Regions from separate parts of the Homo sapiens genome. Here region 2 is linked to region 1. The links come from fine-mapping of genetic effects on gene expression. A gene starts in region 1. The other region holds a variant in brackets. All regions are shown on one strand. Distances are from middle to middle. Region 1 holds the start of ARAP2 (ArfGAP with RhoGAP domain, ankyrin repeat and PH domain 2). Region 2 has its middle 200 kb from the start of ARAP2.

Region 1 (2,917 bases):
AACTTTCCTGGTGGAAATGAGGTCGGCTATGAGGTATTAAGTTCAAAAGGAACTGGATATTTGGTGTCTCTAGTAAGACAGAGCTGCTTCAGAGTCTCCCCAGGGAAAGACGGTGCTTTGGGCAGGTAGTTAGTGTGGGTGAAGGTGATGACTGAAGAATCCTAAGGGCCCAGGCTTGTGGGAAGCCTCTCTCTTTCCGCACTTCACCAATTATCTCATTTTCATAAGGTCTGCGCTTTCCTTAATTGCTTCACTTCCATCAACAGGAACAGGGGAAAGATAAATACATTTCACCTTTTAATGAAGAGAATTTCAGGTAGTCTGTGGGAGATGTTTATAAAAAAAAAAAAAAAAGCTGGTAGGGGGCAGTGTCTCACGCCTGTAATCCCAGCACTTTGGGAGGCCGAGGCAGGTGGATCACTTGAGGTCAGGAGTTTGAGACCAGCCTGGGCAACAAGGCGAAACTCCGTCTATACCAAAAATACAAAAAAAATTACCTTGGCTGATGGTGCGCGCCTGTAATCCCAGCTACCTGGGAGGCTGACGTGGGAGGATAGCTTGGACCCAGAGGCGGAGGCGCAATGAGCTGAGATTGCCTCACTACACTCCAGCCTGGGTGACAAAGTGAGACCCTGTCTAAAAAAAAAAAAAAAAAGTAGTTGGTCTGTGAACTCACTTGCAAATAACTGGATTTTACGGACGCTTAGATATTTGGAGGTCCACAAGGGTTCTTTGGGATCCCCTATTTTCCTTCGCTGCCTCCTTTGTCAGAGTCCAACTCAAAGGGGAAATGCCCCTCTGGGATCTAACCGCCACAGGTGCAAGAAGGAGCAAATTTACATAGAAGCAGCCTGGGGAAAATAGTGCCCTAGATGAGTCTTCAGTTTGGGAAACGCTGAGCTAACACTTTAAGTACTTGGAAGAGTAATACTAATAATCAGTCGTGGCGAGGTTCCGCCCATTTGACATTCAACCCCCCATGAGTGCGCACAGACAAACCCACTGGCCAGGAGGAGCCAACACAAGGTCCTGGGCATCTCCGTCCCGGGAAGGTGGGTAATGCCCCTGTCGCTCTGGGCTCCAGGGCGCGCCCCCGCAGCTTCCCCAGCGGGGTCTGACGCCTCCGGGCCGAGGTGCGCCAGGTGGCGAGGGTGCCAGGCGCGGCCAAGTCGCGGCGGTCTGAGTCAGTCACCCAACTATGCTGCGGAACCAGGGAGGCCGGCTGGGCCGCCCCCGCCGTTGAGCTCCGGCTTCCCCCGCGCGGGGCGCCTGCTCCCCGCCCCCGCGGGCGGAGAGGAAGCGGCGGCCGAGGCGAGGCGCGGGAGCACCTGAGCAAGGCGCGGGCGCCGGGCTCGGCGTTTCCGGAGCTGAGCGCGGGTCCGCGGCCCGCGCTCCCCGCCTCCAGGTGCGGCGGCCGCGACACGCCGGCCCCACTAACAGCGCCGCCCGCGCGGCCGCCGCCAGGCAGCAGAGGCGACTGCGGACAGCCGGCGGGGACCGGGAAAGAGGAGGCCTGGCGCCTCCGGCAGAGGGGCGAGGACCGAGCGCCCAAGGCTGGGAGAGACGCCGGCGCTGAGCTTCCCAGCGCCGCCTCACCTCGCTTTTCGAACTCCGCGACCCGAGCGCAAGGCGAGTACCCGGGGCCTCGGGAAGGCTGGGCCGGGATGGCCCACGCGGGGGTGGGAGGACCCTGTCTGGAGGGGCTGGGGCTTTTCGACACTTCACCGGGTAAATTTCCTCAGCGCAAAGTGCTCGGCTCTGGTGTCCGCCCCTTGGATTTCGCTCCCGCGTGTGGGCGTCTGAAAGGAAACCAGAAGCCGGTAAGTGATCCAAGAACTCCACTTCTGGGATTTGACCCGGGAGGGTGAGGATCCGGATAGACAGCTGGACACTCCCTCCATTCCTCTCCCCTACCTTTAAATAAGAAGAAGCTGTAGTGAGTTTCAGGCACCAAGTTATTTACTCGGTAGAGATCATGAATTTGCCCGGGTGTCTGTGCTGCCCCGCACCCTGCTTGTTAACCACGTTAAGACGACTGGCCTGTTAATTAACTTTAATTACGATCATTTGGCTTCCACCTGCCTGAACCCGATACCTTACACGGGAACCTGTATGATGTGAGTTTACCAGATTGATCTTTCTTGTTTACTTTTGGAGACAGTTCTCTTGGGAGAAGTGGTGTCCATCCTATTTAATAAAGTAAGTTTTACTTTATCTAATTCTGGCTTGTTTTCTTAAACACCTCCTACCTTGAGGTGATCTGGAGTTATTTTGATTTGGGGAAAGGGTTCGTGGATTATATAGCCTTTGATAATTAGAGGAAAACACAAGAAAATAAGCTAATTTGTGTGGAATAATGACATCTTAGGGTGTTGTAAGTAGGTATCCTGATAGCAAATTCTTTTTTTTTTTTTTTTTTTTTTTGCAAGCTTGTCCTTGAAGTAGGCTGTTCAGTAGAATACAGCCTTCGGTTTAAAAAAAATCAAGAAGTGTATTGAAAATAAGCTATTTTTAAAAGTACATTTAATAGGATGTCATTGTTATTACTCATAATAGTATTGTACTTACAAGCTCAGTATTGATTTATCTGCACTTAAGCACTCTACACCCCCACAGGCCCATGGAACTTTGCCCGTAAGTAATTGGAAGATAAAAAGCAAGCTAACTTTTTTTAAGGAAAAAAAGAGAAATACCTTTAAACTCTTTTTTTTTTAACTCTTATTTATGACTTCCATACACTTACAGGAGAAATATTGAGAGAAAATACTCATGACATTTTTTGTCCAACAACGTTTAAAGAAGAAAAAAAAGTGGGTCATGGAACTAGGCTAGGGTTAAGTGCAAATATCTTCCTGGCTTCTTTCTAAACATATTTAACACATACACATTTAAGGTGGTTCCTAACACGAAGAGGGTT
Region 2 (2,917 bases), 200 kb after region 1:
TTTAAACATGTTTTGTTCACATATTTCTATCTAATGAAGTTATCTTCCTGTCCTAATGAGGTGGGTAACAATGTGTCTCACTGTCACTGTTTTGGAGATTTTGCTGAACTTGGTGAACTTGCTCTACTCTGGCCTGGACAGAAAAGAAAAGAAAAGCTTACACTTCTTGGTTTCCTTGTTCTGCCTTCCTATTGTGATGGGTGAGTGCTTTTGCTTAGGCTTGTAGGCCAGGGCTCTGGTTAGCTCTGCTGCCTGCTCCTCTTACATACAACTTTTGGGGATGATAGCCTTTAATTTTCTACAGCACTTCAAAATAGATTCTTTCTGTGGTCTGCATTAGAACTTTTTTTAACATCCATATAGGAATTTTATGCCCATTAAAATTCCTATATGCCAGGTGCAGTGGCTCACTGCACCTATAGGCCAGGTGCAGTGGCTCACAGCTGTAATCCCAATACTTTGGGAGACTGAAGTGGGAGGATTCCTTGAGCCCAGGAGCTTGAGACTGGCCAGGACAATATAGTGAGACCTTATCTGTACAAAAAACAACAATAAATAACAAAATTAGCCAGCCATTGTGGCATGAGCCTGTAGTCCCAGATACTCAAGAGGCTGAGTATTGTTGTTTCAGTCCAGGAAGTGGAGCTGCAGTGAGCTGTGACTGCACCACTGTACTCCAGCCTGGGTGACAGAGCAAGACCCTGTCTCAAAACAGAGAGAGAGAGAGAATACTGGTCAGGAGCTCACTTACCTATAGGCTGGTACAATGAATATATTTTGCAATATATGCCTAGTTTACAATGACCTGGTTAATTATTCCCTCCTCTACTCAGGAAAAGACAACATAGAGTAGAAATTAACAAAGGAATCTCTGGAGTGAGGCATTCTGAAATTTTACTGAAGCTCTAAAACTTAACAGCTATGGAAATGGGTAAGTTTCTCAATGCTTTGTATCTTAATTTCCTTATAGGTAAACTTCTCTGACAATTGTCCCCCTCTTATCCCCCTCTCTTACTTTATAAATTTTCCATTCATTTTGAGTTTTTTCTGTATTTATTTATTTATTTAATTTGATCATTGTCAATAATTGCATATCTTTTTGGGGTACAATGTGATGTTATGATGCATGTATATGTTTTAGAATGATCAAATCAGTCTAATTAGCATATCTATCACCTCACATATTTATACATTCCTTGTGGTGAGAACATTTAAAATCGATTCTTTTAACAATTTTGAAATATACAATACATTATTATGACCTATAGTTGCCATCCTGTGTAATTGATGACTAGAAGAATTTACTCTTCTTACCTAACTGAAACTTTGTACCATTTGTCTCACATTTCCTCTTTCCTCATTCTTTCCAACCCCCCAGCCTCTGATAACCACCATTCCACTCTGTATTTCTATGAATTCAACTTTTTTATATTCCACATGTAAGTAATATTACATGGTACTTATCTATCTGTGCCTAAGTTACTTCCCTGAGCATAATGCCCTCTAGATTATACATGATGTTGTAAAGGACAAAATTTCCTCCTTTTTAAAGGCTGAATGGTATTCCATTGTGAATATATACCATGTTTTTTTACCCACTTATCCACTGATGGATATTTAAATTGTTTCTATAGCTTGGCTACTGTGAATAATGCTGTGATGAATTTGGGAGTGCAGATAGCTCTTCAACATACTGATGTCAATTTATTTGGA[T/C]ATATACCCAGAACTGGGATTGCTGGATACCATGATAGTTTTGTTTATAGTTTTTTAAGGAAACTCCATACTGTTTTCCACAATGTCTGTATTAATTTCCATACCTACCTGCAATATATATTGTTTCCTTTCCTCTACACGCTCACCAACACATCTTTTTTATGATAGCCATTCTAACAGGTATGATGAGTTGAAAACTTGTTGTGGTTTTACTTTGTATTCCCCTGATGATTAGTGATGTTGAGCACTTTTTTTTAATATTATTGTTCGCCATTTCTATATCTTCTTTTGAGAAATGTCTATTCAGGTTCTTTGGTCATTTTTTTTTTAGCAGGGTTATTTCCTTGTTATTGAGTAGTTTGAGTTTGTTAAATATTTTGAATTTATCCCCTTATCAGATGCATAATTTGAAAATATTTTCCCCTGTTCTATAGATTGTCTCTTCATCCTGTTAATTGTTTACTTTGCTATACAAAACCTTTTTAGTTTTATCTAGTCTCATTTGTCTGTTCCATTTTTATTTTGTTGCCTGTGCTTTTGGGGTTTTATCCAAGAAATCATTGCCCAGACCAATGCCATGGAGCTTTTCTGCTATGTTTTCCTCTACAGTTTCAGGTCATATACTTAAGTTTTTAATCTCTTTTAAGTTGATTCTTATATATGGGGTGAGGTAAAGGTCCAGTTTCAGCAAGTGAATAGCCAATTATCACCAGCATACAAATATGTTATAATAGCTTCCATCTTAACCTAAAAAAGAAATGACAGAAAAACACAAACTCCCTCTCTTGACACCATATTCTACTGCTGCTACCTCCCAATATCTCAATAGCAAACCACTTTTAAAATCCTCTTTACAGTGTCTTGTTTACTTCCATTTTTCTCTTGAAGTTTCTCTAATCAGACCCATCACCACCAAAGAAACAAACTACTTCTAATCGAGATCATGAATGGCCTCTAGTTTGCCAAATAAATTGTCTAATTCTCATACCTTGGATAACTCATTTATTCAGTGGCCTTTGACATCGGTGGTTTATGATCACTCTTTCCACATCCTTTTTCACTTGGTAAACGGGACACTACATGCTAAATAAATGTAAACATAAACCACGAAATGTTCATTTGCTTATTCCTCTGAGTGCTTCTCTTCCATACTGGTGCGCATTTCCTGAGTTATGTCATCCAGAAGCATTACCTCAAATATCAT

Evidence for each region. PIP is the estimated chance that this variant, and not a neighbour inherited with it, causes the effect.
Region 2: its variant is the best candidate, but not a certain one, in a credible set for the expression of ARAP2 in whole blood (TOPMed, PIP 0.62).

The regions. Positions count from the first base shown.
Region 1 is chr4:36,242,891-36,245,807 of GRCh38, reverse strand. ARAP2 (ArfGAP with RhoGAP domain, ankyrin repeat and PH domain 2) reads left to right here and starts at 1,294. Exons shown (of 33, transcript NM_015230.4): 1 at 1,294-1,629. LOC439933 (a long non-coding RNA gene) reads right to left here and starts at 1,692. Exons shown (of 5, transcript NR_122079.1): 1 at 1,597-1,692; 2 at 498-636. RefSeq lists a silencer at 919-1,498.
Region 2 is chr4:36,043,993-36,046,909 of GRCh38, reverse strand. It overlaps a transcript of ARAP2 not described here. Among named protein-coding and RNA genes, the nearest start is that of ARAP2, 200 kb to the left of the region's middle. The variant T/C (reference allele first, on the strand shown) is at 1,714.